2 separate regions of the Homo sapiens genome follow, and region 2 is linked to region 1. Evidence: fine-mapped expression QTL. A gene starts in region 1. The other region holds a variant in brackets. All regions are shown on one strand. Distances are between the middles of the regions.

Evidence for each region. PIP is the estimated chance that this variant, and not a neighbour inherited with it, causes the effect.
Region 2: its variant is fine-mapped to the expression of PLEKHH3 in thyroid (GTEx, PIP above 0.99).

Annotation. Positions count from the first base shown.
Region 1 is chr17:42,668,078-42,683,491 of GRCh38, forward strand. PLEKHH3 (pleckstrin homology, MyTH4 and FERM domain containing H3) reads right to left here and starts at 8,917. Exons shown (of 13, transcript NM_024927.5): 1 at 8,325-8,917; 2 at 6,277-6,332; 3 at 5,857-5,936; 4 at 5,566-5,757; 5 at 5,322-5,479; 6 at 5,099-5,219; 7 at 4,009-4,315; 8 at 3,274-3,481; 9 at 2,917-3,053; 10 at 2,496-2,628; 11 at 1,841-2,299; 12 at 1,353-1,544; 13 at 1-226. The coding sequence starts at 8,486. The coding sequence ends at 50. CCR10 (C-C motif chemokine receptor 10) reads right to left here and starts at 13,766. Exons shown (of 2, transcript NM_016602.3): 1 at 13,723-13,766; 2 at 10,812-12,540. The coding sequence starts at 13,746. The coding sequence ends at 11,476. It overlaps CNTNAP1 (contactin associated protein 1), which reads left to right and starts at 14,454. Exons shown (of 24, transcript NM_003632.3): 1 at 14,454-14,819. The coding sequence starts at 14,753. RefSeq lists enhancers at 5,114-5,987, 9,208-9,307, 9,328-9,377, 9,508-9,587, 9,568-10,069 and 8 more and silencers at 5,958-6,007, 6,058-6,177, 7,418-7,577, 8,698-8,757, 8,848-9,097 and 3 more.
Region 2 is chr17:42,541,691-42,557,104 of GRCh38, forward strand. It overlaps NAGLU (N-acetyl-alpha-glucosaminidase), which reads left to right. Exons shown (of 6, transcript NM_000263.4): 6 at 1,338-2,759. The coding sequence ends at 2,548. It overlaps HSD17B1 (hydroxysteroid 17-beta dehydrogenase 1), which reads left to right and starts at 11,233. Exons shown (of 6, transcript NM_000413.4): 1 at 11,233-11,340; 2 at 11,434-11,601; 3 at 11,749-11,928; 4 at 12,104-12,197; 5 at 12,715-12,892; 6 at 12,979-13,524. The coding sequence starts at 11,244. The coding sequence ends at 13,248. HSD17B1-AS1 (HSD17B1 antisense RNA 1) reads right to left here and starts at 13,112. Exons shown (of 1, transcript NR_144402.1): 1 at 10,746-13,112. It also overlaps the pseudogene HSD17B1P1. RefSeq lists silencers at 6,576-6,825, 13,094-13,253, enhancers at 7,216-7,295, 7,326-7,385, 12,877-13,444, 14,260-14,807, a cis regulatory region at 10,691-10,707 and a promoter at 11,157-11,233. The variant T/C (reference allele first, on the strand shown) is at 4,450.

The sequences.
Region 1 (15,414 bases):
TCCTGGCCCAGGCTGCAGGCAGGAGGGAAGTCGTGACCTCTTGGCAGGCTCAGTCCTGCAGCTGCCCCAAGCAGCCAGACTGTCCCTGGGGCTCGTCCAGGCCCGGGCGCTGGCTGGGAGGGGAGGTGTCTGGCAGGTCTTGGCATGGAGGAGAAGAGCTGCTGCAGGGCCTCTCGGGGGAGGGGTTGGCCAAGTAGGCATTCACCAGCTGCATGATCTCTTCCACCTAAGAGAGGGCAGAGGTCAGTGTGCAACAGGGGCTGCCAGGTTCTCTTCTTTTTCTCATCCTTTCTCCAGGCTCTAGGGCTCCAGCTTCCCCACCAGGGTCCTACGTGCTCTGGCCCTGCAACCTTTCCTTCCTTATCACCACTCTCTCCTTCATTTCTTTTTTGTTTTTTGAGACGGAGTCTCGCTGTGTCCCCCAGGTTGGAGTGCAGTGGCGCGATCTCAGCTCACTGCAAGCTCCGCCTCCTGGGTTCACACCATTCTCCTGCCTCAGCCTCCTGAGTAGCTGGGACTACAGGCGCCCGCCAACACGCCCGGCTAATTTTTTGTATTTTTAGTAGAAACAGGGTTTCACCGTGTTAGCCAAGATGGTCTCGATCTCCTGACCTCATGATCCGCCCATCTCGGCCTCCCAAAGTGCTGGGATTACAGGCGTGAGCCACCGCGGCCGGCTTCTCTCCTTCATTTCTATGTGCCAGTTATACTTGGTTCTTTCTGCTCTTCTAACATTTTTTTTTGTTGTTGTTGTTGTTGTTGTTGTTGAGACGGAGTCTTGCTCTGTTGCCAGGCTGAAGTGCCTCGGCTCACTGCAACCTCCGCCTGCCGGGTTCAAGCAATTCTCCTACCTCAGCTTCCCGAGTAGCTGGGACTATAGGTGTGCGCCACCAGCCCCAGCTAATTTGTATTTTTAGTAGAGATGGGGTTTCGCCATGTTGGTCAGGATGGTCTCGATCTCCTGACCTCGTGATCTGCCCGCCTCGGCCTCCCAAAGTGCTGGGATTACAGGCATGAGCCACTGCACCCGGCCACCTTGCAATTCTTTCTACCTGGAATGCTGTTCTCCCAGGTCTTCCCTGGCTAGCTTAAATGGCACCCTTTTTGAGAACCCTTCCCTGGCTTCCTGTCACATCACTCTTTCCTTTGTAGCATTTCTCACTGTCTTCATAGCCTGGGATTCCTTGTTTATTGTCTGACTCCACTCTAGTGTAAGCTCCTTCAGCTTGTCTGTGATCACTGCTGGATCCCCAGTGCTTAGAGCTCTACCTGGCCCAGGTTTGGTGTTCTGTAAATGCTTCCTGACATCGCTTCCCTTCTCTCCTCCTCCCACAACTCCTCTTCTCACTCACCTGGGGGCTCTGCAGGAGGAGCTGGCTCTCTCCCACCCTCAAGGCCAGGGTGTGGGGGCCCATTAGCTGGCAGGCGGCCACATGGCCATAGCTGACACTGTGGATGGGCTCCGTCTCCCCTGGCCGGGAGAGGGACATGGCCTTGGCTCCCAAGCCCAGGCACAGCTTCTGTGGAGCACCCCGACCAGGCTCCTGCAGACAGAGAGGCAGAGTCAGGGTGGAAGGAGGAGCCCAGCGTTATTTTTGGTAGGGGGAGATGGGTGTCTGTGAGCAGGAGTATCCTGATCCCCCTATGATTCACAGCACGTGTGTGGAGGGGGCTGAGGCTCCAGGGATGTGAGGGCCCAAGGGCTGGTGACTCCTGGGGTTTGAGATGGGTAGCTGTTCTGGATGTGGGGAATTACGTGACACTCCGTGGGACCTGTGGCTCTGGGGCAAAGGTGTGGGGCTTGGGCCGCCAGAGTCCCCTTCTCCCTTCTCCCCCTCACCGTGCTCAGCTCCAGAACGTCATACCGAGCAGCGCCGAACCCCGGACACTGCGCCGCCAGGGCCAGGTAGGCGGCCATGGCCTCAGCTCGGCCCATGCCCCGTAGCCGCTTCCAGCCGCCCAGCACGGCAGCTGCCGTGCCGGCGCCGCCTCCTCCCTCGCGGGCAATGCTTCCCGCAGTGCGGCCGGCCCCGCCGCGCCGGGCCCGCTCCGCCCGCCTCTTGGCCAGGCCCGGGCTCCAGAGCGCCCCGGCCAGCAGGGCAGCGGAAGGGGGCGGCCTGGGGGTCGGGCGGGGCGGGTCTTCGCGCGGCGGGGCCGGGGGCGGGAGCAGGCGGTCCAGGCGGGGCAGGGGCACCCGCGGAGAGAAGTCCCGCTGCAGGCTCTGCAGGCGCAGCGCCGCCAGGGCGCGCAGCGTGTCGTCGGGTGGGGGCGGCCGGCCCCGCAGCAGCAGAGCGTGAGCCTGCAGGGGAGGCACCCGGCGTCAGTGTACGAGCGGCGGCGGAACCGTCGCGAAAACGCCTCGCGGAATCTGAGCAGGTCTAGGTTCCAGTCAAGCCTCCCGCGGGGCTGCCATAGTGATGAAATGAGACGGCCTAGAAAACCAGGGGTTCAGGCTTGGGGGTCTGTTTGGAGGCGTGAACGCCGGAGAGCCTCACCTGCTCAAAGAGGAAAGGCAGTTCGTGACCGTCTGGGGACAGCCCCTCAGGGTGCAGAGGTCCGTGAAGACGCAGACATAGTCTCCACCCGGAGTCGGGCGAGTCCTCCAACCCAGCTTCCTCCGCGGCCAAGCTGCAGAAGAGGAGCGGACGAAGCGCTAGGGAGAAGCCGGACCCCTACGGCGAGGGCAGCTTGGGGTGGGGGCGGGGCCATGTGTTTGGGGCGGGGCCTGGGCGGAGCCGACAGCGGAGGTGATGCTGCAGTCGGACTGCAAACCTGCGGCGGGCAGGTCCGTCTGTAAACCAGCGAACACCACAGCGCAGGGCCAGGGGCAAGCGCTGGATAATGTCCGCTTAGAGACTGACCTCAGCTGAGAAGTGGATGGGCTAATAGAGAGCAGGGCTGGGGCTGGACATTTACTTCTCAAACCTGGTGAGCACGTCGGCCACGAGGGTCCCCCCAGCCAGGGCTCGCTCCTGGGCCCCTCGCTGCTCGTACAGCGCGAATGCGTTGCGGCTCCGGGCCAAGCCCAGCCGCCCCACCAGCTCTCGAGCCACCTAGAAGAGGAGGGTGAGGGGAGACCACTCAGAGGTCTTGCCAGGATTCTGGGAGGGGTTGATTCAATTGGAAGGGGTCTCTTAGTCCTGTCACCACCACTCCCTCCCTTACCAAAATAATCTAGACTCGGGGCAAACCTAGGGTCCAGGAAGAGGGAGAGACAGGCGTGAGAAGCTGGCAGGGTGGGTTGGAGGTCATGGGGCCTTTCTCTGGCCTCACCTCCCCCGCCGTGGTGTGGGAGTCGATGGCCACAGCACAGGCACCAGCCCCCGGACAGTGCACGGTACACAGCAGCTCCTGCCGTTGGCTCAACGCGGAAATCTCCGCCAGCGAGGGCACCAGCTCTCTGCCGCGCGTCCGGCCCAGCGCTTTCCGGATGAAGCGCGCATATTCCGCCAGTTCCGAGTCCGGGAGTGCCTGCTCGGTCCTGGGTTAGGAGGAACCCAGGGATCAATACTCCAAGGGCTTTCTTCTCCCCCTCCCTCTTGCCTGCTTCTCTTATAGTTTATTTTATCTAGCCGATTTCCTCCCCGCCCCAACTCAAGTTCTTTGAAGGCTCTTCTAAATCTCTCCCCAGTGCTTTGCATAGAGCTGAATTACTTTTCAAGTCCCCTGGCAGCTTTCTCCCAACTGCCTCCACCACTTCCAAAAGTCTTCGTGATCTTCCTTCGGCCTGAAATCGAAATCCAGCCACTTTACTACATTTTCCTAAGCCCTGGCGCTGGCCTGCATCAGCTGGAGGAAAAGCAGCCTTTTCATAACTCCTCAGCCCAAGGGGGGCGTTTTATTGTAATTCATCCGCTCACAACTGCGATAGGATCTTGTATCTCCCACAAAGGCACTGTATGTATTACTCGGTTCTTTACCTACCAAGTCTTTTGCAAAAGACCTTTCATTCTCTCCCAGCCCGGTAGCTCCTCGCCTAGGCCGTAACCCCCACCTCGCCCCTCTCACCTCTCCAAGTGCCCCAGGAGGTGCCCCCGCACAGCTCCCCCAGGTCGGAAGGTGCAGCTCATGCAGGTGAGGAGTTGCCAGTACCGCAGGGCCGCAGGGTCTTGGGTAGCCGGGAGCCCGGGGGGACCTGCAGGGCCCGAGGTCTGCTTAGCCAGCTGCAGGAAGAGTTCATCCCGGAGCGCGGGCAAGTCCCGGCAGGTTTGGAGCACACCCTGCATCAAGGGCCCGGGGCGCCGCGCCCCCTCCAGCGCCTGCAGCGCCAAGAACAGCCGCACCGCCTCCTCGCGCAGGGGTGCATAGCCCGGACCTGTGGGAGGGTGGGGGCGGAGGGACGGTTTGGAGAGGGGACACAGAGCTGCGCCCTGGGAGGAAGGCATGAACCAGGGGAAGGTCAGAGGGAATATAAGGGGATGGGGTGGCAGGGAGGGGAGGGTACGAACGACAGGAAGAGTGAAGGGAAAGCAGTGGTCCCACGGAGCCAGACTCTCAACCTCTGCCTCCCAGGAATCCCCTTCCCAATCCCACTAAGCCTGCATTTGGACTTAGGGAGACGGACGGCCGGGAAGGGCTGTAGATTCACACCCCAGATTCTGTAACTCCATACTGAGGCTCACCACCATAGGTCAGAAAACAGGCTGGACTAGGAGTCAGAAAACCGGGGTTCCTCTCCCAGCACCCTTTAATCCTCTAACTTTAGGACCTGGGCCAGTCACTACACCGTTTAGGGAGAAGTACAGTTGGATGAGGCCAGCACATTCTACAAAAGTGGTAGCTTTTCTACCACTTGTAAAGGTAATATGGCATAGTCTCAAGAGGATAATGAAAAAATAGGGGAGTGTACAAACTCCTGAAGGAACATCAGTAGTCAGAATGAGACCCATAGAGAAGGTGGCCAAAGGGGGCCCTTTTGTGTGTGCTGGCTTCCTCTCCTCCACCCTGGCCAGCTTCCAGTTTCACCTTCATCCTTCGAAAAGTGAGGAGCTGGCAGGTCCATGAAGGATGCTTAGATCCCTGCCAGTTAAGGGATTCAGATTCTTACCTCTGAACCACCCCATCCCATCCAGGGGACTTGGGCCATGGGACCACTCACCTGGGGCGCTGACTCCATAGGGCAGGGGCAGGAGTGGGGCATACAAGGCTCCACTAGTGTGTCTCAGAATCGGGTTCCTCAGGTAAATGAGGGCAACGGCCTCTGGGTCCCCGCAACTTTCCTAGGGGGCCAGGGAGAGGGTCACCTTGATGGGGAAGGGAGTTCCTCACAACCCCAGAAAGCTTTGGGGTCCACCACTCTCCTGGCTCTCCCTGGTGTGTACCTGTATGTCCCTGAGCAGTAGCTGGGTGGGGGTCTCCAGGGGTGCCTTGGAGGCGATCACTTCCCGCAATGCCACCCCCCAGCGCTCAGCCTCTGCCTGGCGTGGGGAGCAGAGGCGGACACTGTGTTTCCGACCAGACACAGTCACTGACCACAGACCTGGGGAAAAGAGAGGCCAGGGAGGGCCATTAGGGTCTGCCGGGGCCCCTGCCTAGGAAGGTAGGAGAGTCCCCAGGAGGTCTCACCTGTCTCCTTACGCCTGCGCTCTGGGCCGGTCACCGAGCACAGGCTGGTGAGCACGAGGCTCCCGAGACGCCGCGCCCCTTTCCCGCTGCTGCTGAACTGATCCAGGGAGTCCCGCGTGAGCACAAACCAGGCTCGGCGCGGGGGCAGCCAGGGCCGCGCCCCTCCTCCGCGGGGCTCCCGGTACAGCCAACCTGGGGGCCGGAGAGGGAGGGAAGGGACATCAGTAGAGACATTAATCCCTAGGGGGTTGGGATTGGGGGCCTCCAGAGTGCACTGAGGGGGGTCTCTACCTTTCACAACGATGTCCGGGTCGTCCTCCGGCAGCCCTTTCTCCGGGATGAGGCTCCAAGTCTCCTCCCAGCTCTGCAGCCTGGGCCAGAGGGGAGGGAAGGTTGGGTCTCCACTCTGCCTCTAGGGGGCTCCTCTGTAGGGGCTCCCCAGACCGCACGGGTGTCTGCTCCCAAGCTGGGCACCCCTCCCCCAGGCTGTGGGAACCGCTGGGCCATTCTGACCTCGAACCAGAAATAGCCCCGACCCCCCTCTTTCTCCCCGCGCCCCCAGCCGGACCGCCCCCCGGGACCCCAGCCAAACCACAGCGTCCGGCATAGGGCCTCTCCCTTATTGCACAACCGCTAGGGGAGACAGAGAGGATGGGGGTCCCGGGAACATGCTGGGGTCGCCAGACTATGGGACGTAGGGGCGTAGCTCACCTGTTGGAGACAGGCCCGCTCCTCACTGGCTGAGTCAGCGTCACTTCCAGGGGACCCTGGGGAGACAGGCGGGGAAGCCCTCAGGGTCAGAGCCCTTCCTGCGCAAGGTTCGTGCCTTCTGCCCTCAGGACAGGGCTGCTCAGGGGATTGAGGAAGGAGGAGTCACAGAGTGGGGTCGTGACTAGGGTGGAGCACGCTGGAGCCCCTGGGCTCGCCCCTCCCGCCAGTCTTAACAGGACAAGCTCTTCAGAACAGCAGGAGCTAAGGAGCCAAGGCTCCTCTCAGTTACCCTTTGAAAATACAATCAGGGGTAGGGTAGGGTGGAAAGAGCACTGGGCAGAGAGTCAGGAGACCTGGGTTCCAATTCCCGCCCCACCACTAACTCACTGTGGAACCTTGGGCAAGTCTCTTCCCGTCTCCGGGCCTTAGTTTCCCCATCTTTGAAACAGGAGAGGTGAGCTCGTTCTGCCAGGCTCCAAGGCACCCTCTCCTCCTCATTTTCCCTTCTTCCACACTGCCTCCCTGGCCAAGGCAGGACAGGTGGTAGGCACAGAGGTGAATGAAGGGCAGAGGGACCCTTTCAGTATAGGGCTTTCTCCAAAAGCGTCTTACATTCTCCCATAGACACTCCTGAGACTCAATGGTGAGCAGAGACCCTGCCCCTTTGCTGGGGCTTAGGAAGGGCGGGCCAGACTGAGGAATGGCACACCCTCTGGAGGCAGGTGTAGTTCAGGGTTTTGCCCTCCCCCTCCCCCTCCTCCTCCCTTCCCCCTGTCCTGGAACTTCAACTGTAGACTGGGGTCTGAGAGAGGCCACAAACCCAACCCGGAGGCCAGTCAGGCGGGAACCGTGCCATCCTCATATTGCTCCCAGACTGCTAGAGCCAAGAGGGGGAGGTGGGGGAGGGGGCCAGGGACACCTGTCCCCAGGCTCAGGGAAGGGGGGAGTTGAGGTGGAGCATGAGGGAGGCAATGGCCTGGTAAAGCCGACCCTGCCCAAGCTGGAAGCTTGGGGACGCCTGGGTCCTGCACCCTTCCTACGTGAACCTCCACCTATTTTCTGGAAGGTCTGAGTGGGGCTGTCAGCCACACCACATGTGGCAGGTACTGACCACCCTCTTAGGCTAACTCCCCTAATCGCAGTGCCCTGCTTCCCTCCCTCCCCCCTCCTCTATATTTATCCACCCTCCGCCTCCGCCAGGTGCTGGCGCCGGCCCCGGCGGCGCAGCCCGCCCCACCCGGGCACCGAGCCACTGGGCCTGCTGGGGACCCCTGCGCGGGGGATGGGAGCCTGACCCGGGCCACAGCACACGGGAGTCTGGCCGCCAGTGTGCAGGAGGGATGGGGGAGGAGACGTCAAGGGATGGAGGTCTCCCACACCAATCGTGCCTCCGTTTCCCCACGGGGAGATTCGACAAAACCAGGCAGCAGCCCAGTGTCCCTCACCATCCATCCCCTCAGGGGTTTCCCAGGAGCCTCACCCGGGAAAGCCGAGAGTTCTGTCCTGAGTGGCAGGGTAATGAGGAGGGGTCCTCAAAGAGCTCCCACCTCCCTCTCCTTGGGGTCCCCGCCACAGACCCCAATCCTGGGATGACTTCTCCCCCTCGTCCAGGTCTCCGCAGCGGGAGCTCTCGCATCTGGCCTCCGCACTTGCGAACTGGGAGCGGAGGGGGACCCAGGCGTTCGAGCCGCCCAGCCGGCCTCGCCACATTCCTCGGCGCTGGCGGAGGCGGAAGGAGACGGGATGGGACGCGGGCCCAGCGGGGAAGGGAGAGGCAGGGCCAGGTCGGGCCACGCGTGACGCCTCCCCTGCCTCAGGGCCCCCAGCAGGTGGATAGCGCCCAGCCTGCAGCGGGAGGCCCACAGGCACATCCCGAGTAGGGCTGCTGCTCCGAGAGCTCCCGGGGGCTTTGGCCCCCAGGCAAAAAACTCTCCCTCATCCCTAGTTCGCCAAGCGCGCAGCGTGTGGCTGGAGGCTGGAGCGGATCAGCGTGACGGCCGGTTACAGCGAGAGTGATTGAGACGAGGCTCCGAACCCCCGGGACTTACCCTCCCGCCGCCCGCTGGACTCGGGGTCCGCAGCTCAAAGGTTTCCTCGTCCTCGTCCTCGTCCCCGTCCCCGCTAAGCTCGCCGTCCCCGTAGTCCCGGTGCAGAAGAGTGAAGCCTCGACGGCAGCAGAGAAGCCACCATAGTCCCCCGGGGAGAGGCATCCGGGCGAGGAGCTGCGGATGGGGGCGCGGGCAGCCGCGGCCGAGCAGTAGGGGGTCGGAGGAACTGGCGGGGCTCCGACCCGAGCAGGGGAAAGATGAGGTGGGAGGAGCAGAAGGGAGAAGAGGACAGGGAGGAGGCAGTGTCCTGGGCTGGGGTGCAAGGGGACGCTAGCCAGACGCTGAGGGGGGCTCAGTGTCTGGGCCCCCGGAGGGGGGAGGGGGAAAAGCGTCCAGGGCCCCGGGAGAGGAGGGAGCAATGTCCGGAGCTGGGAAGTAGTGTCCGTTGGAGTGTCCAGCCCTGTGGGGGGCAGTGTCCGGTGCAGCGTCCGAGGTGGGCAGTTGTCCAAGCTCCAGGGAGGGTCGTGTCCGGTAGGGCGTCCGGTGGCCGGGGCCCGGGCCGCGCGCGCTGCGCTCCCTGCAGCCCCGGGACTGGCGCGCTGGGGGCGCGAGCACAGAGCTGGGACCCCGCCCCCCCGGCCCCCTCCCTCCCGGGGGGCCCCCCCTCTCTCTTCTTTCTCTCCTCCCTTCTTTACTAGGCAGGGTCCAGGTTTCGTCACAGTCTCCTCTGTCCAATCCCTGTGCCTGGCGCCGGGCGCGGCTACCAATCAGACGGCTGAAACCGCGTTGGGTTGCATCATGTGCCCCTGGCTTGGTGACAGCGGGGAGGGGCGGGGAAACAGGGAGGGAGGGGACGAGGCTATGTTAGCCACGCCCCAGTCTCTGAGGTCGGACGCGGGGTGCTAGTGACGTCACGGAAGCCCGCCTTCAGGCTCTTGTTTTAACTCTTGGCTCACCAACCAATTAAAAACCCTGTTGAGGAGTTTTGGCACAGGACAGAGGAAAACCCAACTGCCGCTCTCTGAACCCCTGTCTCGTCTCAGGGTCCCTGAGAAAGGGAAACGCCTTGGCTACTAAGAGGATGTCCAGACCTGCGAGGACACAGCTCTGGAGGTGGCCCTCCACGTCTGGGGAGAAGGAGTCCAGTTTCTCCAGTTTCTCGGTCTGATTCAGCTCTCCCCCACCCTTTTTTTTTTTTCTTCCAGACAGGGTCTCGCTGTCTTGCCCAGGCTGGGGTGCGGTGGAGCCATTATAGCTTACTACAGCCTCGAACTCCTCGGCTCAAGGGATCCTCCCACCTCAGCCTCTCCAGGAGCTGGGACTACAGGCGTACACCACCATGCCTGGCTAATTTTTTAAATTTATTTTTTGTAGAAATGGAGTCTCACTATGTTGCCCAGGCTGGTCTTTAACTCCTGGGCTCAAGCGATCCTCCCAGCTTGGCTTCCCAAAGTGCTGGGATTACAGGTATGAGCCACTGCACTCGGCCTCACCTCCTTTTCGAGGTGAAGGAGTTGAGGCAGGCACTCTGGGAAGGTGCAGACCTAGGCCGGAAATAAAATCGAATATAGAGCTCACAGCTCACCGAACTCAGCTGGGGAGACTGACTTGGATTCTAAGGAATTCTGTGGTCTCCGAATACAGTGGAGGCCTCTTAGGGCTAATATCCTGCGGCTCTGTATAGGAAGGGGTTAACTCAGGCGCTAGGCGGCCGGGGCGGGGCCGCGGCCTCCGCGGGCGCGCGCGCGCGTTGCTGACTCAGCGGCGATTCCAGAGATCTTGGATGGAGGGTTCCAGGTCGGTCCCCAGTGGCTGGCGTGTGGGACCCTTTGAGGATCGGCGCCGTCTCCGGGCCTTCCCTGGATCCTGGCCCCTAGAGGCCGTGGGGGACCCCTTTTCGCCGCTGCTGCGGGAGGCTCTGAGGACTGCTAGCCTGGGCAGGGCTGGGCTGGGCGGGGAGGGGCGGGGAAGGGCGGGACGGGCGGGGCCGTCAGGCCAGCACCTCCCTTGAGACCTCCTCGCCACGCCCCGCCCTTCTCGACCCTAGACTCCAGGCTGGAGCGGTGGGGACAGCTTTGCTGACCGATATTAAACCGCGAGAACTGTCGCACGTGAACACCATCCTGCCCGTTGTGATTGTGTAAAACAAAGACCAGGAATCAATGCGAGCGTGTCTAGGAGGCCATCTCGGCCGTGGCCTCTCTCCACATGAGAGTGGCCTGTACTGAGAGATTACCTAGGAATGGAGATACCACAACCATCTTCCAGGTCTGGATCCCAGGCCCTTGCCTGCAGAGAAGTTTTTTCCCATATCCAACCTCTCTCTTTCCGGCCAGCTCAGTGCATTTCCTCTGACCCAGTCCCCAGAGAAGATGGAGAACAGCAAATATCCCTCACCCCCACCACACCCGTGATAACTACTCTGGAAATTTGCAGATTGCAATCCCTCCTAGGTTTTTCTTCAAGGTGGAAAAACTTCAACTCAAATTTTACAATTCATTTTTTCATTTTTTCTTTCCATCACAGACACTAGGAAGGGATTGTAAAGTGGTTATGAAATCCAAACGCCCACCAAAAACGGGAATCCCCTGCCCCTCCCCCTCCCCCCACACCACGCAAAGGCCCACAGCGTCCCCGACAGTCTGAACATTCCAATAGCGGGAACTCAGTATTTGCTAAGGCAGCCATTACTGGAGAGCGCTCTGGTTGTTAGAAAGCTCTTCCTTACAGTATTGCAAGAGGAACCACCGCCCCTCCTTGCCTGGCAGCTTTCCCACCTCACCTCTGTTGGCTGAGGCCAGGTGACGGTGGAGGGGGTGTCAGTGGCTAGAGCTTTAGCAGACTCAGCAGCCCCCCACCCCCACCCAGGCCCTCAGCGTCTTCCACTCAGAGAGCCAAGCGCGGGGCAGGGCGGGGGGTGGGGCGGGGGCGGGGTGTTAACCCACCGGTTCTGCCCCGCCACAAATCACTTCCAAGTCGGTGACTCAAAAATAGTAACAGTTGTTGGGTTGCATCTCATTTCCATGTTATCAATTTAATGTGGCAAGGCACAGAGGTAGTCCCTTTAGGTCCCTGCCTCTTTCTCAGTGTTCCCCCACCTACTCCCCTTTCCCACGACCCTCAGCCTGCCCCCTCCTCTAGATTCGCAGCCCTAGTTGTCCCAGGAGAGACTGTGGGTCTCCGTGGGAGCTGAGCAGGAAGAAAGGCGGGGCCGGCGGGGGCAGCCGCGGCGGGGTTGAGGCCCTGAGGGGCAGCTCCCACCCCGTAGCAGCCTCCGCAGGTCCTGGCGGAAGCGCAGGCCCAGGAAGGCGTAGAGAACGGGATTGAGGCCACAGCGGGCGAGGGCCAAGCCGCTGGTCACCAGCAGTGCGACATCCTTGCGTTTGCTGGCAGGGCAGCTCCGCTCGCGCGCAGCCAGTAGATCGGCAGTATCCAGCAGCAGGGCGAGGCTGTAGGGCAGCTGCAGCACCACGAAGGCCGCCACCAGAGCCACCACGACGCGCAGCGCACGCCGGCGCTCGGGCCCCCTGGCGGCCAGCAGCGTGCGGCCCAGAAGCGCGTAGCAGGCTACCATGACGCCCAGCGGCAGCGCGAAGCCCAGGGCCACCTGCGCCACGGCGCTCGCCCCCTTCACCGTCTGCGTGAGGCCCTCGGGGAAGATGAGGCGACAGCGTCGTTGGCCTTCCCGCTGCCCATCCTGGCTGAAGAGCAGCGCAGGCAGCGCCAGGAGCAGTGACAGCAGCCACACGATGACGGAGACCAAGTGTGCGCGGCCGGGAGTGGAGGGCCGCGGCCCGGCTGGGAGCGCTCGCGCGATGGCCACGTAGCGGTCGGCGCTGATACAGGCCAGGAAGAGGAAGCCGGCGTGGAAGGAGGCCGAGTAGAGGCCAGAGATGGTGCGGCAGGTGGCACTTCCCAGACTCCAGCCCTGAAGAGCCCCTGCTGCCGCGAAGGGCAGAGTCAGGGCCAGCAAGAGGTCGGCCAGGGCCAGCTGGAGCAGGTGGGCAGAGGTGGGCGAGCGCGCTGCGCGTCGGGCTGCCAGGTGGGTGGCCAGGACCAGGCCATTGCCGGCCAGACCCAGCGCAGCCACGGTCAGGGAGACACTGGGTTGGAAGGCCCGGCTGAAGGCCTGGACATCGGCCTTGTAGCAAAGCTCCGGCAGTGGCTCAGCCGAGTATGCGTCCTCTTCATCCCCAGAGTAATGGCCCCAGGAAACCTGGGAGGGTCAAATGAGAGGCGGGATCTTATGAGACACATCTGACCACACAACTCCCCCGCCCACACTTGCCTTCCAAGCTGAGAGCTCCTGTGTGGCCAGATGTAACAGTACACGGGGAGACATAAGCTCTTCTCCAGACTCTTCCTAGCACACCTTCAGCAGGCCTTGGCTTCCCTTGCACCCCTCCTACCTCTGCTTCCAGCTTCCTGGGTGACCTTGAGCAAGCCACTTGCTCTTTCTAGACCTCAGTTACCTAACCTGTAATGTTGAGATTATAAATCCTGACCAGCCCACCTCTCAAGGTTTGCTGTGAAGATGGCAATATGGAAAATAATGGATGGGGAGAACCTGTGTTCTCCAAAGGCCATAATACAAAGTTTGTATTATTATTATTATTTATTATTATTATTATTGGAGACAGAGTCTTGCTCTGTCGCCCAGGCTGGAGTGCAGTGGCACGATCTCGGCTCACTGCAACCTCCGCCTCCGGGTTCAAGAGATTCTCCTGCCTCAGCCTCCCAAGTAGCTGGGACTACAGGCGCCCACCACCACGCCCAGCTAATTTTTGTATTTTTAGTAGAGATGGGGTTTCACCATGTTGGCCAGGATGGTCTCGAACTCCTGACCTCAGGTGATCCGCCCACCTTGGCCTCCCAAAGTACTGGGATTACAGGCCTGAGCTACCACGCCCAGCCCAAAGTTTGTATTATTAATAAATCCTACAGCTTCAGTTCCCTTTGCAGCGCCCTCTCCTGGAAGGATGCCCATATGCAGGCTTTGCCTCAGACCTGAGCCCTGGACTCCAACCTCCGTCTGGAGTGGGTTTCTGTTTCTCTTCTTTCCCTTCCATACCCACCTTCCCTGTACCTCCAATACCAGCACACTGAACCACTCATGCCAAGGGGGTCTCCAGGGTTGGGACTCAGGTTTTCAGGGCCCAGGTGGGACCCTGGACCTCTAGGTTCAACCCGCCTTTCCCCTCAGCCCTAGTCCCTGTCCCACAACCCCAGCCTCACACCACCAGCCCATTTATCTGGAGGACCCCTAGTCTGAGACAGCGCCAAGAATCCTGAATAAGCCATAGGATGGCAGAGGCCCATTGCCAGGTGGGGAATCCCATTCCTTCCCTGTCTCCTCCCTCTCTGTAACCCTTCTCCCCCTCCCTGCCCCCACTCCCACCTGCTCTGTGGCCTCCGTCCCCATCTCTGGCTACACAGGTTTCTGAGGTATAGCCACAGGGGGTAGAAGTTAAACTACTAGCGGGACAGGAAGGAAGAGGCGGGGAGAGGGGCCGAGAGGGAGGTGGGGATTAGGGTCTACGGGGTCACTTTCCCATTCCACCTCCTCCAAAAGACTTCACTCTCTTGTGCAGGATCTGGATTTTACGAAAAAAAAAAAAAGAAGAAGAAAGGAAGGAAAGAGGAAAGAAAGAAAGAAAGAAAGAAAAAAAGGAAGGAAAGAAAGAAAAAAGAATGAACGAAAGAAAGAAAAAATAATTTACTGTCTTTGTCAGTGAAGAAAGAACGGGCTTCGGAATATAATCATTTGCTGTGTGATATTGACTAAGTTTCTTGACCTCTCTGAGCCTGAGGTTTTTCATCTGCAAAGTGGAGTAGGGCAAAAATGCTAAATTCACAGTGCCCAGCACCACTCCTAGAGCATAATTTGCCTTCCGAAAATGTTAAGATTCTTTTACTTACCCTTCATTCCATTTCCAGGCACCCCTCCCCCAAACCACCTCCCTTTTCTTGAAATTTTCAGGATGCTTCTGGCCCTAGGTTCCCTGTCCTCACTCCTGTGGCCCTAGTCCCGGGCAGCCTCGGGTTACTTGGGGTTTTCCCGGTGGCGAGAGGCTCTCTACCCCCGCCCTTTCGCAGCAGGGCTGAGGCACGCGCTTGCGCGGGGTCCGGGAAACCGGCGCGTGCCAGGAGACAGAGGCTGGGGAAGGGGGGAGGTGAGAGGAAAGAGGGTGGAAAGGAGAGGATAGAGAGAGAAGAGCGGAGGACCAGGAACCAGAGAGAGAGAGAGAGAAAAGAGAGAGGAGAGACAGAGCGCTTGGGGGCGAAAGGAGAGAGGGAGGGAAGGGTGGGTAAGGAGGAGAGAGCGGTCTGCTGCAAACCCCAGGAGGAGAGCTTGGAGCCCAAGCCAGAACTCGAGCCCTAGCCGGAGCCGTTCACAGGGAGGCGGCTGCCGGGACCGTCAGCCCTGCATGATGCATCTCCGGCTCTTCTGCATCCTGCTCGCCGCGGTCTCAGGAGCCGAGGGCTGGGGCTACTGTGAGTGTTGGGCTTGGAGGCAGGTGGGGTTGGGCCCAGGAGTCCAGAGCCTGCAGGGCGGCCCCGAACCGCATTGCGGCTGGGTGGTCGCGGGTCCTTCCCGGCCGGCGCGCGCCCGCTGGCTCTCATCTTTTCCTGCCTCTCCCCCGCGCTCCGCATTGCAGCTCTGAGGCTGCCGCGCGCGCCCGGGGCTGGGGCTGGGCTCTGGGAAGAGGATGAAGTCAGCGGGCAGGGATTTGGGGTTGGGATCCAAGCAGGAGCTGGTGCCTGGGTTTGAGGCTAGGGCTGGGGGATAAGTGTATACTGGTGACCGATACTAGGATTAAGGTTTTGCCAGGGCTTAAGGCTGGACTTTGGAGCTGGCCAAGGGGTGGGGTTTGTGGCTAGGGCTGGGGTTTGTGGCTGGGGCTGGGTTTTGTGGCAGGGATCCAAGCAGGAGCTGGTGCCCCTGACTGATGCTAAGGCTGGACATGGAGCTGGTGATGGTGCTAGCACTGGCTGAGGTTGGGTGCAAGGCCTGTATTTGGGGATGGTGCAGGTTTTGGGGGCCGAGTTGGATTGAGGCTAGGGTTGGAGCTGGATTGGTGTCTTGGGT
Region 2 (15,414 bases), 130 kb before region 1:
CCACTTAAAGGAGGAGTGGAGCAGAGGGCGCCCAAGTCAGGAATGACTTAGTGGAGAGGCGTCTGTGTTGGCCAGGAAGGGAACAGATCAGCTCAGCCTTTCTTGAGCAGTACTGCTCCAAGTGTGACCCAAAACCAGCAGCAGCAGCAGCAGCAGCCCGAGCTGTGAGATGGCAAATTCTCAGGCCCTACCCAAGACCTGAAGGAGAAGCTACATTTTTTTTTTTTTTGAGACAGATTTCACTCTGTTGCTGAGGCTGGAGCACAGTGGCACAATCTCATCTCACTGCAACCTTCGTCTCCTAGGTTCAAGCGATTCTCCTGCCTCAGCCTCCCGAGTAGCTGGGACTATAGGCACCCGCCACCACGCCCGGCAATTTTTGTTTGTTTTGAGATAGAGTCTCGCTCTGTCACCCAGGCTGGAGTGCAGTGGCACGATCTCAGTTCACTGCAACCTCTGCTTCCTGAGTTCAAGCGATTCTCCTGCCTCAGCCTCCTGAGTAGCTGGGATTACAGGCGCCCCCCAACCACACTCGGCTAATTTTTGTATTTTTAGTAGAGACGGGGTTTCGCTATGTAGGTCAAGCTGGTTTCAAACTCCTGACCTCAAATGATTCGCCCACTTCAGCCTCCCAAAGTGCTGGGATTACAGGTGTGAGCCACCTTGCCTGGCCAATTTTTGTATTTTTAGTAGAAACAGGTTTCACCATGGTGGCCAGACTGGTCTCAAACTCCTGACCTCAGGTGAACTGCCCACCTCAGCCTCCCAAAGTACTGGTATTACAGGCGTGATCCACTGCGACTGGCCTTGATTTTGTTTTTGAGACAGAATCTTACTCTGTCGCCCAGACTGGAGTGCAGTGGCACAATCTCAGCTCACTGCAACTTCTGCCTCATGGGTTCAAGTGATTCTTGTGCCTCTACCTCCCGAGTAGCCGGGATTACAGGCACCTGCCATTACGCTAGGCTAATTTTTGTATTTTTAGTATAGACAGGGTTTCCCCACATTGGCCAGGCTGGTCTGGAACTCCTGGGCTCAAGTGATCCACCTGCTTCAGCCCCTCAGAGTACTGGGATTATAGGTGTGGGCCACCACGCCCATTCAGAAACCTCCATGTTTTAAGGAGCCCTCTGGGTAACTCTCATGTTCACCCAAGCTGCTGAACCCTGTCCTGGAGTTTTCAGAGGGACGCGTATGTGCCACAGAGCGTCCCGCTGGTGGGGGTCATGGGAAGCCATGACCTGGGATAGACAGTCGTCTGTAGAGTGGGGTGAACATTCCCTGGGCCCTCTGTTTCATCACTCCTCTTCTCTGTTCCCCCTACCTCCTGTCCACAGTGGATACTGAGGCTGTGTGGCTGCTCCAAGGCTGGCTCTTCCAGCACCAGCCGCAGTTCTGGGGGCCCGCCCAGATCAGGGCTGTGCTGGGAGCTGTGCCCCGTGGCCGCCTCCTGGTTCTGGACCTGTTTGCTGAGAGCCAGCCTGTGTATACCCGCACTGCCTCCTTCCAGGGCCAGCCCTTCATCTGGTGCATGCTGCACAACTTTGGGGGAAACCATGGTCTTTTTGGAGCCCTAGAGGCTGTGAACGGAGGCCCAGAAGCTGCCCGCCTCTTCCCCAACTCCACCATGGTAGGCACGGGCATGGCCCCCGAGGGCATCAGCCAGAACGAAGTGGTCTATTCCCTCATGGCTGAGCTGGGCTGGCGAAAGGACCCAGTGCCAGATTTGGCAGCCTGGGTGACCAGCTTTGCCGCCCGGCGGTATGGGGTCTCCCACCCGGACGCAGGGGCAGCGTGGAGGCTACTGCTCCGGAGTGTGTACAACTGCTCCGGGGAGGCCTGCAGGGGCCACAATCGTAGCCCGCTGGTCAGGCGGCCGTCCCTACAGATGAATACCAGCATCTGGTACAACCGATCTGATGTGTTTGAGGCCTGGCGGCTGCTGCTCACATCTGCTCCCTCCCTGGCCACCAGCCCCGCCTTCCGCTACGACCTGCTGGACCTCACTCGGCAGGCAGTGCAGGAGCTGGTCAGCTTGTACTATGAGGAGGCAAGAAGCGCCTACCTGAGCAAGGAGCTGGCCTCCCTGTTGAGGGCTGGAGGCGTCCTGGCCTATGAGCTGCTGCCGGCACTGGACGAGGTGCTGGCTAGTGACAGCCGCTTCTTGCTGGGCAGCTGGCTAGAGCAGGCCCGAGCAGCGGCAGTCAGTGAGGCCGAGGCCGATTTCTACGAGCAGAACAGCCGCTACCAGCTGACCTTGTGGGGGCCAGAAGGCAACATCCTGGACTATGCCAACAAGCAGCTGGCGGGGTTGGTGGCCAACTACTACACCCCTCGCTGGCGGCTTTTCCTGGAGGCGCTGGTTGACAGTGTGGCCCAGGGCATCCCTTTCCAACAGCACCAGTTTGACAAAAATGTCTTCCAACTGGAGCAGGCCTTCGTTCTCAGCAAGCAGAGGTACCCCAGCCAGCCGCGAGGAGACACTGTGGACCTGGCCAAGAAGATCTTCCTCAAATATTACCCCCGCTGGGTGGCCGGCTCTTGGTGATAGATTCGCCACCACTGGGCCTTGTTTTCCGCTAATTCCAGGGCAGATTCCAGGGCCCAGAGCTGGACAGACATCACAGGATAACCCAGGCCTGGGAGGAGGCCCCACGGCCTGCTGGTGGGGTCTGACCTGGGGGGATTGGAGGGAAATGACCTGCCCTCCACCACCACCCAAAGTGTGGGATTAAAGTACTGTTTTCTTTCCACTTAAACTGATGAGTCCCCTGGGTCTGTCAAAATGAGAAGGTCACTGCTGCCACGCTTGGGAGGACTCAGGGCTATAGCATGGCCCTGGGGTGGGACCTGTTCTCCCATCCCTTGCCTCACGTCCCTGTTTTTGTTTGTTTGTTTGTTTGTGACGGAGCCTTGGTCTGTTGCCCAGGCTTGAGTACAATGGCACAGTCTCGGCTCACTGCAACCTCCGCCTCCTGGGTTCAAGCAATTCTTGTGCCTCAGCCTCCCCGGTAGCTGGGACTATAGGCATGCACCACCACGCCAGGCTAATTTTTTTTTTTCCAAGATGGAGTCTTGCTCTGTCGCCCAGGTTGGAGTTTAGTGGCACCATATTGGTTTACTGCAACCTCTGCCTCCCGGGTTCAAGCAATTCTCCTGCCTCAGTCTACCAGGGAGTTAGGACTACGGGCCTGTGCCATCACGCCCGGCTAATTTTTGTATTTTTCATAGAGATAAGGTTTCACCATGTTGGCCAGGCTGGTCTTTAACTCCTGAACTCAAGTGATCCACCTGCCTCGGCCTTCCAAAGTGCTGGGATTACAGGAGTGAGCCACCGTGCCCGGCCACGTCTCTCTTTTTAACACTAATGTTACCCTGACCTTTGAACGTAGAATGCCCTTCTGTTGCAGGAAAACCTCTTTTCAAACCATGTTTGTCCTTTGCTGGCATGCCACAGCAACAGTCACCAACACAGAAGACTTCTGTGACCAAATATTTGGAGGATTTTCCCCACACACACCAAGCAGCAGACATCAGCTGGGTGTCCTCCAATTCAGTTCCAATGTAATCAACCAGAGACAGCATCAGATCCCACAGGGTTAGGGTGCAGATCCATGAGACCACCCCCTCCTTCCCAACGGTTACAAGTCCTGATCCCTGGAACTTCTGACTAACTGGCTTCAAGTTGGAGTTCCCATGACCCCCTTCCCCTCTTTGGAGTCAACTCATTTGCGACAGTGACCCACGAAACACAGGGAAACCCTTATTATGTTTATTGCTTTATTACAGAGGAAAAAAATTTTTTTCTTTCTTTTTTGAGACAGGGTCTCACTCTGTCATCCAGAATGACTGCAGTGGCAGGATCTGGCTCCGTCACCCAGGCTGGAGTGCAGTGGCATGATCTCGGCTCACTACAGCCTCCATCCCCCCAAACCCCACGCCTCAGCGCCCCACCCCGCAAGTGGCTGGGACTCTAAGCATACACCACCACACCCAGCTAATTTTTTTGTAGTTTTTGCAAAGACGGGGTCTCATTCTGTTGCCCTGGCTGGTCTTGAACTCCTGAGCTCCAGCAATCCCCTTGCCTTGGCCTCCCAAAGTGCTGGGATTACAGGCATCAGCCACCGTGCCCAACCTCAAAGGATATTTTAAAGGATAGAAATAAACAGCCATATGAAGAGATACAGACAGGGCGGTCTGGAAGGGCCCAGAGCAGGAGCTTCTATCTCCATAGAGTTGGGGTTACATCACCCTCCAGGCACATGGATGAGTTCTTCACCTTCTGTCAGCCTCCACACGTTCAGCTCTCAGAAGCTTCCCGAACCCTGTCCTTTGGGCCTTTTATGGAGAACTCCATTGGCTGTCCATGACTGAAGCATGGACAACTGTGATAATGTGATTGGGCAAAAAGGGTCTGATCTAAGCCCAGCAAGGCCAGTCCAGATTCTT[T/C]GGGCCTTTGTGCAGCATTCCTTTCTCCAGGGTATGGGGCAAGGACCCACTCTGGAATGAGGATCCTACAACCCACAATCAGATTAGAATCCTGCCTTGGGCAGCTGAAAAGAGGACAGGAGAAGGTCAAAGAGAGGAAAGGCTGTTTTTTGAGGCCTGAGGCGCCCCAACATGACAACGAAAGACTGTAACCATGGTCATGTGAGTTATGAGCTAGGAACCCTGGACGAAACCAACACATATACAATCATCTCCCACCTCCCAACACCTTTACTTTCACAGCCTCTGCAGCAAACTGCGGTCACTATAATCGCTCCTGTGGCACAGAGGCATACCCAGGGGAATCTGCCCAGGGGGCCACTCTGTGCCCACGTGGGAACCCACATCTGCTTGTAAAGCCTCCCCTCCCTCTGACCAGAAACGAGGACAGTTTGTTGTTCCAAGCAGTGGGCTCATGTCTGTTTTGGCTCAGAACAGGGTGGGGAGAGCGGGCCAGGGACCCGCAGGAGGGCTTATCCTTGAGATTGCGTGGGAGACACAACAAGGGGTGGGGGCCCGCAGGCGGGGCGGGGCGAAGCAGGTGATATCCAGCCCAGAGCCCCAGCCTCTCCCCACAGTCTCACCATGGCCTGCACCGTGGTGCTCATCACCGGCTGTTCCTCAGGTATTGGCCTGCACTTGGCAATACATCTGGCTTTGGACCCATCCCAGAGCTTCAAAGGTATAGATAGGTAGGGACAGGGAGGGAGAGAAGGGAAAAGCCCTTGGAGGCCAGAAGAGAAGTCAGATCTTCCTCCTCTCCCAAAACCTCCAGTGTATGCCACGTTGAGGGACCTGAAAACACAGGGCCGGCTGTGGGAGGCGGCCCGGGCCCTGGCATGCCCTCAGGGATCCCTGGAGAGGTTGCAGCTGGATGTAAGGAACTCAAGCTCCCTGGCCGCTGCCCGGGAACGCGTGACCGAGGGCCGTGTGGATGTGCTGGGTGAGCCTCCTGGAAGCATATGGGCTCCTAGGAGCCTTCTCCGCCCTGCGTTGAAACCAACATGTCCCCAGGCCCCTGGAGCATGAGGGGACAGGCCGTGCTGAGGGTGATGCTGAGGCGGGCTGGTTGGGCCTCTGTCCCCGCAGTGTGTGACACAGGCCTGGGCCTGCTGGGGCCGCTGGGGGAGGACGCTGTGGCCTCTGTACTGGATGTGAATGTAGTAGGTACTGTGCGGGTGCTGCAGGACTTCCTGCCAGACATGAAGCGGCCGGGTTCGGGACGCGTGTTGGTGACTGGGAGCATGGGAGGATTGATGGGTGAGTGGCAGGGACCGGGCCCGGAGCTCCAGATTCTTTGTGTGCAGAGCTGAGCCTTGAAGGCAGGCTCCTTAGGGGGTGGGGTGCAATCAGCTTGGAGGGGCACTGCCTGCCGGGGGATGACCCCCTGGCCGCTGCGCCTCAGGAACCTCATCTTCCCACCCAAGGGCTGCCTTTCAATGACGTTTATTGCGCCAGCAAGTTCGCGCTCGAAGGCTTATGCGAGAGTCTGGCGGTTCTGCTGCTGCCCTTTGGGGTCCAGTGAGTCAACACCCCCGTCTCCTCAACCCTCTTAACTCTGACCTAGAGATGCCGAGCACCCTGTCCTGCGGAAGCCGCTCTGGTCTCTGCCCGGCTTACATTTGCTGCGTGCCAGGCACTTAGGCTGGAGCATTGGCACGCATTGTGCCACTTGCTGACCTGGCTGCTGAAGTGTTGGTATTGTTATGGGGAAGCTCCAGCCAAGAGAGGTTAGGTGACTGGCCCAAGGTCATGCAGCGGCCGGGGATCCCGCCAGGTTCGAATTCTGACACCAGGGCTACCTGGCAGCCTCAGATGGGTTTGGGAGGGCTGTCGAGCAATAACCCGCTATTCAAATGTTCTGGTTATCCCCAGCGCTCTTTCCACCTTCGGGACGCAGCGGTGCTGTTCTGGGTCGTGGCCAGGGCCGGGGTCGGGGCCGGTGCTGGGGCAGGAGATGGGACTTGGCGCCTGGGTCGCCTCCGTCCCTGCCCACTTGCGGCTCTCGGGCCAGCAGCGTGAGCCTGATCGAGTGCGGCCCTGTGGACACCGCCTTCATGCAGAAGGTGTTGGGCGGTCCCGACCAGGTGATGGACCGCACGAACACCCGGACCTTCCGCCTCTTGCACTAATACCTCCACCACAGCAAGGAGATCTACCGCGAGGAGGCGCAGCACCCTGAGGAGGTGGTGAAGGTGAGCGGGGGGCGGGACTCCGGGAGCGGGGGCGGTGCGTCGTCCTGCGCGCAGCCCGGGCCAGAGCTCCTCTCCCGCCGCCGCAGGTCTTCCTCACCGCTATGCGCGCCCCGAAGCCGACCCTGCGCTACTTCACAACCAGGCGCTTCCTGCACCAGCTGCTGATGCGCCTGGACGACCCCTTTGGCTTCGACTACGCCGCCGCCATGCACCGGGACGTGTTCGCCGACGATCCCGCAGAGGCCGAGGCTGGGGCCGGGGCTGGGGCCGAGGCCGGGGGCGGGGCCGGTGGGATGGGAGACCCTGAGCTCAGCGATCCTCTGGCCGCCCCGCAAGAAAGGCTCCGTCAGCCACTGTCTCCCGCGCCCTCCTTTGTCTCCTGGGCCTGTGCGGTCCCTGGGGATGGGACGGCGGTGACGGCTGTGGATGGCTAATTAAGACAGATCACGTTAGCCCGTTATATCTGCGCGGCTAGGCGCGATGGCTGTCGCCTATAATCCCAGAGCTTTGGAAGGCCGAGGCAGGAGGATCGCTCCAGGCCAGGAGTTCCAGACCAGCCTGAGCAACATAGTGAGACACCCCATCTCTAAAATAAAAAAATTAGCACAGTGGCACCATTCCTTGAGCTCAGGAGTTGGAGGCTGCAGTGGGCATGATCGAGCTACTGCTCTCCAGCTTGGGCGATAGAGTGAGACACTGTCAATTAATTAATCTAATCAACCAACCAACCCAACAACCCAGAAACCAAGGTCCAGAAAGAAGCCAGCCCAGGATCATGCCTCAAGTCCACAGTAAAGCCCAGACACAGTCACTGGATACCCAAGGGGCATCTGCAGGACGAGTTAGGTGGGACTTGGGTTGGGGTAGAGTCAGGTTGTGACCTGCACTCCATTAGCCATGAGACCTCAGGCAAGTTCCTTGCTTTCTCTGAGTGCTTTCCTTTCCTTTCCCTTTTCTTTTCTTTTTTGTTTTTCTTTTGTTTTGAGACGGAGTTTCACTCTTGTTGCCCAGCCTGGAGTGCAATAGCGCGGTCTCAGTTCACCACAACCTCTGCCTCCCGGGTTCAAGTGTAGCTAGGATTGCAGGCATGTGCCACCACGCCCAGCTAATTTTGTATTTTTAGTAGAGACGAGGTTTCTCCATGTTGGTCAGACTGGTCTTGGACTCCCGACCTCAGGTGATCCGCCCGCCCTGGCCTCTCAGAGTGCTGGGATTACAGGCATGACCCACCCCATCCGGCCCTCTGAGTCTTTCTTATCTGTAAAATGGGTATAATAATACCTATCTAATCGGTTTTAGTAATGGTGGAGATAATGCCTGAAAGTGCTAGTATAGAGGTTTAATACCCAGCAAGGACTGTTATTAGAATGAATAGTAATATGACTACTGTCACATTTTGCAAATGTGTAAAGAAGAAAGAGGGCTAAGTGAATCAAAGGGAGACAGCCCCACTCACCCTGTTCTGCCCCAGAGGACTGAGCGATCCCCACCATCTGGGAAGCTGCCTCACCAGGAGGTCCAGCTGGGGCTACAGGACTGGCTACTTTGCTACAATGGCCCATCTTTCCTGAGCCCAGTGGAGGGTCCCAGGGGGGCAGAAGTCATTGATAGGGGCCAGTAGGGTTGTAGAGCCACTGTCTGAACTTCTGTGGAGGTCTGGTGCAGGGGAGGTGTGAACAGATAGGAGGCTAGGTGAGGATGCAGCAGAGGAAGGGGGCAGGAGTGCCCCAGGAGGGGGCGGTACCGAGGCAGGGATTCAGCTGGGTCTGAGAGGGAGGGAAGGCTGAGGGGGATGGCCCTTTGGAGTGGGCAGGGACATGACCACAGAAAGCCTGGGAAGTGGAAACAGACAGGAGCCTGCTGGAGCTCTTGGAGCTTTGTGTGGGGCACTAGGGGAAGGAGGCAGGCACTCCACCCTGACCTGCCCCTACCTCTGGATGAGGGTCTTCTCTGCCTGTTGGATGATGTGCTGCCCCTGCTCTTGGAGGAAGAGGCCTCCCAGCCACCCCCTCCTGCCAGTCGCCTTGCCCTGCTGACCCAGACAGATCTGCTATCCCTACAGCATCCAGGAAGGCCACAGGGAGGGGGCCCAGGTGGCATGGGTTTCTGAGGCCTGGGATCTGCTCTCAGTCCCGCTCTCGCCAACCCCCTTTGCCCCTCTGTGACAGTGTGTGTACATATGCGTGCATGTGTGTACCTGTGTGGTGTGGCTCACAAGGTCACCCCTGGGGGTGGGATAATAAGAGGTAAAGTGTGACCCCCTCTCTTCCGTACATTCATTTTTTCAAGCTTGTGAATATTCACATTGTTAATATAATCTTCTGCAGTCCCATGACTTCGAATAGCACTTAGATGCCGATGACCCCCCCACCAAAGAAACCCCACTGTCTCCCACAGACTCCAGGTCTGTATCTCCAACTGCCTACTCAATACAACACGTCCACCTGATACAATGAACTTAATGTGTCTAAACCCCAATTCCACATTTCCAGTCCTCCTACCGGCTCCTCCCCCAGTCTTCTCTACTTTACTATATGACAACTCCATTTTTCCCAATACTGGTTTTAAAAACCCTGGAGTAGTCCTTGACTCCAGTCTCTCTCACCTTTCAACCAATTCAGCAGCAAATACTGACAGCTCTACCTTTGCTCATCAAAGCATATCCCCAAATCACCCTATTCCAGACTGCACACTGTCATCTCTCCCTTCAATTACAGCAGTAGCCTCCTAACTAGTTTTCTTGATTCCACTCCTGCCCATCAGCAGTGAAATTACCCCAGAGCAGTTAAAATGATCTTTTAGGATGGGCACAGTGGCTCACGCCTGTAATACCAGCACTTTGGGAGGTGGAGGCTGGCTGATCCCCTTAGGTTGGGAGTTCAAGACCATCCTCACCAACAGGGAGAAACCCCATCTCTACTAAAAATACAAAAATTAGCCGGATGTGGTGGGACGTGTCTGTAATCCCAACTACTTGGGAGGCTGAGACAGGAGAACTGCTTGAACCCGGGAGGTGGAGGTTGCAGTGAGCCAGAATCGTGCCACAGCACTCCAGCCTGGGCAAGAAGCGCGAAACTCCGTCTCAAAATAAAATAATCTTCTAAAAATGACAGGGCCAGGTGGGGTGGCACTTTTTTATAATCCGAGCACTTTGGGAGGCTGAGGTGGGCAGATCGCTTGACATCAGGGGTTTGAGACCAGCCTGGCCAACATGGTGAAACTCCGTCTCTACTAAAAATACTAAAAATTAGCTGGGCGTGGTGGCGGGTGCCTGTAATCCCAGCTACTCGGGAGGCTGATGCAGGAGAATCGCCTGAACCAGGCAGATGCAGGATGCAGTGAGCCAAGATTAAGACACTGCACTCCAACCTAAGCAATACTTTGTCTCAAAAATAAAAAAAAGCCTGGGAAACAAAGTGAGACCCCGTCTCTACAAAAAAGTCAAAAAATTAGCTGGGTATGGTGGCAGTGATGGCACACACCTGTAGTCCCGGCTACTTGGGAAGCTTTTTAATATTTTTTGCAGAGACCGGGTCTCACTCTGTTACCTGGCCTGGTCTTGAACTCCTGGGCTCCAACAATCCCCTTTCCTGGGCCTCCCAAAGTGCTGGGATTACAGGCATGAGCCACCGTGCCCAGCCTCAAAGCATATTTTAAAGGATAGAAATAAACAGCCATATGAAGAGATACAGACAGGGCGGTCTGGAAGGGTCCAGAGCAGGAGCTTCTATCTCCATAGAGTTGGGGTTACGTCACCCTCTGGGCACATTCTGTCAGCCTCCACACGTTCAGCCCTCAGAAGCTCCCGAACCCTGTCCTTTGGGCCTTTTATGGAGAACTCCATTGGCTGTCCATGACTGAAGCATGGACAACTGTGATAATGTGATTGGGCAAAAAGGGTCTGATCTAAGCCCAGCAAGGCCAGTCCAGATTCTTTGGGCCTTTGTGCAGCATTCCTTTCTCCAGGGTATGGGGCAAGGACCCACTCTGGAATGAGGATCCTACAACCCACAATCAGATTAGAGTCCTGCCTTGGGCAGCTGAAAAGAGGACAGGAGAAGGTCAGAGAGACGAAAGGCTGTTTTTTGAGGCCTGAGGCACCCCAACATGACAACGTAAGACTGTAACCATGGTCATGTGAGTTATGAGCTAGGAACCCTGGACGAAACCAGCACATATACAATCATCTCCCACCTCCCAACGCCTTTACTTTCACAGCCTCTGCAGCAAACTGCGGTCACTATAATCGCTCCTGTGGCACAGAGGCATACCCAGGGGAATCTGCCCAGGGGGCCACTCTGTGCCCACGTGGGAACCCACACCTGCTTGTAAAGCCTCCCCTCCCTCTGACCAGCAACCAGGACAGTTTGTTGTTCCAAGCAGTGGGCTCATGTCTGTTTTGGCTCAGAACAGGGTGGGGAGAGCGGGCCAGGGACCCGCAGGAAGGCTTATCCTTGAGATTGCGTGGGAGACACAACAAGGGGTGGGGGCCCGCAGGCGGGGCGGGGCGAAGCAGGTGATATCAAGCCCAGAGCCCCAGCCTCTCCCCACAGTCTCACCATGGCCCGCACCGTGGTGCTCATCACCGGCTGTTCCTCGGGCATCGGCCTGCACTTGGCCGTACGTCTGGCTTCAGATCCATCCCAGAGCTTCAAAGGTATAGATAGGCAGGGACAGGGAGGGAGAGAAGGGAGGAGCCCTTGGAGGCCAGAAGGGAAGTCAGATCTTCCTCCTCTCCCAAAACCTCCAGTGTATGCCACGTTGAGGGACCTGAAAACACAGGGCCGGCTGTGGGAGGCGGCCCGGGCCCTGGCATGCCCTCCGGGATCCCTGGAGACGTTGCAGCTGGACGTAAGGGACTCAAAATCCGTGGCCGCTGCCCGGGAACGCGTGACTGAGGGCCGCGTGGACGTGCTGGGTGAGCCTCCTGGAAGCATATGGGCTCCTAGGAGCCTTCTCCGCCCTGCGTTGAAACCAACATGTTCCCAGGCCCAGGGAGCACGAGGGGACAGGCCGTGCTGAGGGTGATGCTGAGGCGGGCTGGTCGGGCCTCTTGTCTCCGCAGTGTGTAACGCAGGCCTGGGCCTGCTGGGGCCGCTGGAGGCGCTGGGGGAGGACGCCGTGGCCTCTGTGCTGGACGTGAATGTAGTAGGGACTGTGCGGATGCTGCAGGCCTTCCTGCCAGACATGAAGAGGCGCGGTTCGGGACGCGTGTTGGTGACCGGGAGCGTGGGAGGATTGATGGGTGAGTGGTAGGGAGTGGCCTCGGCAGCTCCAGATTCTTTGTGTGCGGAGCTGAGCCTTGAAGGCAGGTTCCGCGGGGGGGGTGGAGTGGGGTGCCGTCAGCTTGGAGGGGCACCGTCTGCCCGGGGATGACCCCCTGGCCGCTGCGCCTCAGGAACCTCGTCTCCCCACCTAAGGGCTGCCTTTCAATGACGTTTATTGCGCCAGCAAGTTCGCGCTCGAAGGCTTATGCGAGAGTCTGGCGGTTCTGCTGCTGCCCTTTGGGGTCCAGTGAGTCAACACCCCCGTTCCCCGAACCCTCTTAACTCTGACCTAGAGACGCCGAGCACCCTGTCCTGCGGGAGCCGCTCTGGGGCGATCTCCCTGGCCCTCTCTGCCCGGCTCACATTAGCTGTGTGCCAGGCACTTGGGCTGGGCGCATGGCACGCATTGTGCCACCTGCTGACCTAGCTGCTGAAGTGTTGGTATTGTTATGGGGAAGCTCCAGCCCAGAGAGGTTAGGTGACTGGCCCAAGGTCACACAGCGGCCAGGGACCCCGCTAGATTCGAATCCTGACACCAGGGCTCCCTTGTAGCCTCAGATGGATTTGGGAGGGCTGCTCCGGCAGGAACCCGCGTTTCAAATGTTCTGGTTATCCCCAGCGCCCTTTCCGCCTCACTTCCCAGCGCAGCGGTGCTGCTCGCGGTCGGGGGCCGGGACGTGGTTGGGGCTGGGACTGGGGTTGGGGCTGGGACTGGGGCCTGGCTGGCGTCCGCCCCCTCCCACTCGTTGCTCTCCGGCCAGCAGCTTGAGCCTGATCGAGTGCGGCCCAGTGCACACCGCCTTCATGGAGAAGGTGTTGGGCAGCCCAGAGGAGGTGCTGGACCGCACGGACATCCACACCTTCCACCGCTTCTACCAATACCTCGCCCACAGCAAGCAAGTCTTTCGCGAGGCGGCGCAGAACCCTGAGGAGGTGGCGGAGGTGAGCGCCGGGCTGGACTCCAGGAGTGGGGGCGGTGCGTCCTCCGGCGCGCAGCGGTGGCCACAGCTCTCCTCCCGCCGCCGCAGGTCTTCCTCACCGCTTTGCGCGCCCCGAAGCCGACCCTGCGCTACTTCACCACCGAGCGCTTCCTGCCCCTGCTGCGGATGCGCCTGGACGACCCCAGCGGCTCCAACTACGTCACCGCCATGCACCGGGAAGTGTTCGGCGACGTTCCGGCAAAGGCCGAGGCTGGGGCCGAGGCTGGGGGCGGGGCCGGGCCTGGGGCAGAGGACGAGGCCGGGCGCGGTGCGGTGGGGGACCCTGAGCTCGGCGATCCTCCGGCCGCCCCGCAGTAAAGGCTTCCTCAGCCGCTGTCTCCCGCGCCCTTCTTTGTCCCCTGGGTCTGTGTGGTCCCTGGGGATGGGGCGGCGGTAGCAGCTGTGGGTGGCTAATTAAGATAGATCGCGTTAGCCAGTTTTACCAGCGCAGCTAGGCGCGATGGCTGTCGCCTGTAATGCCAGCGCTTTGGGAGGCGGAGGCAGGAGGATCGCTCAAGCCCCGGAGTTGGAGACCAGCCAGAGCAACACAGTGAGACCCCCATCTCTACAAAAATAAAGAAAATTTAAAAATCAGCACAGTGGCACCATTCCTTGAGCCCAGGAGTTGGAGGGTGCAGTGAGCATGATGGGGCCACTGCACTCCAGCCTGGGTGACAGAGTGAGACCCTGTCAATTAATCAAATGAACCAACCAACCGAAAAACTCAGAAACCAAGGTCCAGAAAGAAGCCAGCCCAGGATCACACCTCAAGTCCATATTAAAGGCCAGACACAGTCTCTGGATAACCAAGGGGCATCTGCAGGAGGAGTTAGGTGGGAATTGGCTTGGGGTAGAGTCAGGTTGTGACTTGGACCCCATTAGCCATGAGACCTCAGGCAAGTTCCTTGCTTTCTCTCAGTCTTTCTTTTCTTTCTTTCTTTCTTTTTTTTTTATTTTCTGAGACAGAGTTTCGCTCTTGTTGCCTAGGCTGGAGTGCAATGGGGCAATCTCGGCTCACCACAATCTCCGCTTCCCAGATTCAAGTGATTCTCCTGCCTCAGCCTCCCAAGTAGCTGGGATACCGGCTAATTTTGTATGTTCGGTAGAGACGGGGTTTCTCCATGTTGGTCAGGCTGGTCTCAAACTCTCGACCTTAGGTGATCCGCCCGCCTCGGCCTCTCAGATTGCTGGGCATACAGGCATGAGCCACCGCGACCGGCCCTCTGAGTCTTTCTTATCTGTAAAATGGGTATAATAATACCTATCTAATCGGTTTTAGTAATGGTGGAGATAATGCCTGAAAGTGCTAGTATAGAGGTTTAATAGCCAGCAAGGACTGTTATTAGAATGAATAGTAATATGACTACTGTCACATTTTGCAAATGTGTAAAGAAGAAAGAGGGCTAAGTGAATCAAAGGGAGACAGCCCCACTCACCCTGTTCTGCCCCAGAGGACTGAGCGATCCCCACCATCTGGCAAGCTGCCTCACCAGGAGGTCCAGCTGGGGCTACAGGACTGGCTACTTTGCTACAATGGCCCGTCTTTCCTGAGCCCAGTGGAGGGTCCCAGGGGGGCAGGAGTCATTGATAGGGGCCAGTAGGGTTGTAGAGCCACTGTCTGAACTTCTGTGGAGGTCTGGTGCAGGGGAGGTGTGAACAGATAGGAGGCTAGGTGAGGATGCAGCAGAGGAAGGGGGCAGGAGTGCCCCAGGAGGGGGCGGTACCGAGGCAGGGATTCAGCTGGGTCTGAGAGGGAGGCAAGGCTGAGGGGGATGGCCCTTTGGAGTGGGCAGGGACATGACCACAGAAAGCCTGGGAAGTGGAAACAGACAGGAGCCTGTTGGAGCTCTTGGAGCTTTGTGTGGGGCACTGGGGGAAGGAGGCAGGCACTCCACCCTGACCTGCCCCTACCTCGGATGAGGGTCTTCTCTGCCTGTTGGATGATGTGCTGCCCCTGCTCTTGGAGGAAGAGGCCTCCCAGCCACCCCCTCCTGCCAGTCGCCCTGACCTGCTGACCCAGACAGATCTGCTATCCCTACAGCATCCAGGAAGGCCACAGGGAGGGGGCCCAGGTGGCATGGGTTTCTGAGGCCTGGGATCTGCTCTCAGTCCCGCTCTCGCCAACCCCCTTTGCCCCTCTGTGACAGTGTGTGTACATATGCGTGCATGTGTGTACCTGTGTGGTGTGGCTCACAAGGTCACCCCTGGGGGTGGGATAATAAGAGGTAAAGTGTGACCCCCTCTCTTCCGTACATTCATTTTTTCAAGCTTGTGAATATTCACATTGTTAATATAATCTTCTGCAGTCCCATGACTTCGAATAGCACTTAGATGCCGATGACCCCCCCACCAAAGAAACCCCACTGTCTCCCACAGACTCCAGGTCTGTATCTCCAACTGCCTACTCAATACAACACGTCCACCTGATGCAATGAACTTAATGTGTCTAAACCCCAATTCCACATTTCCAGTCCTCCTACCGGC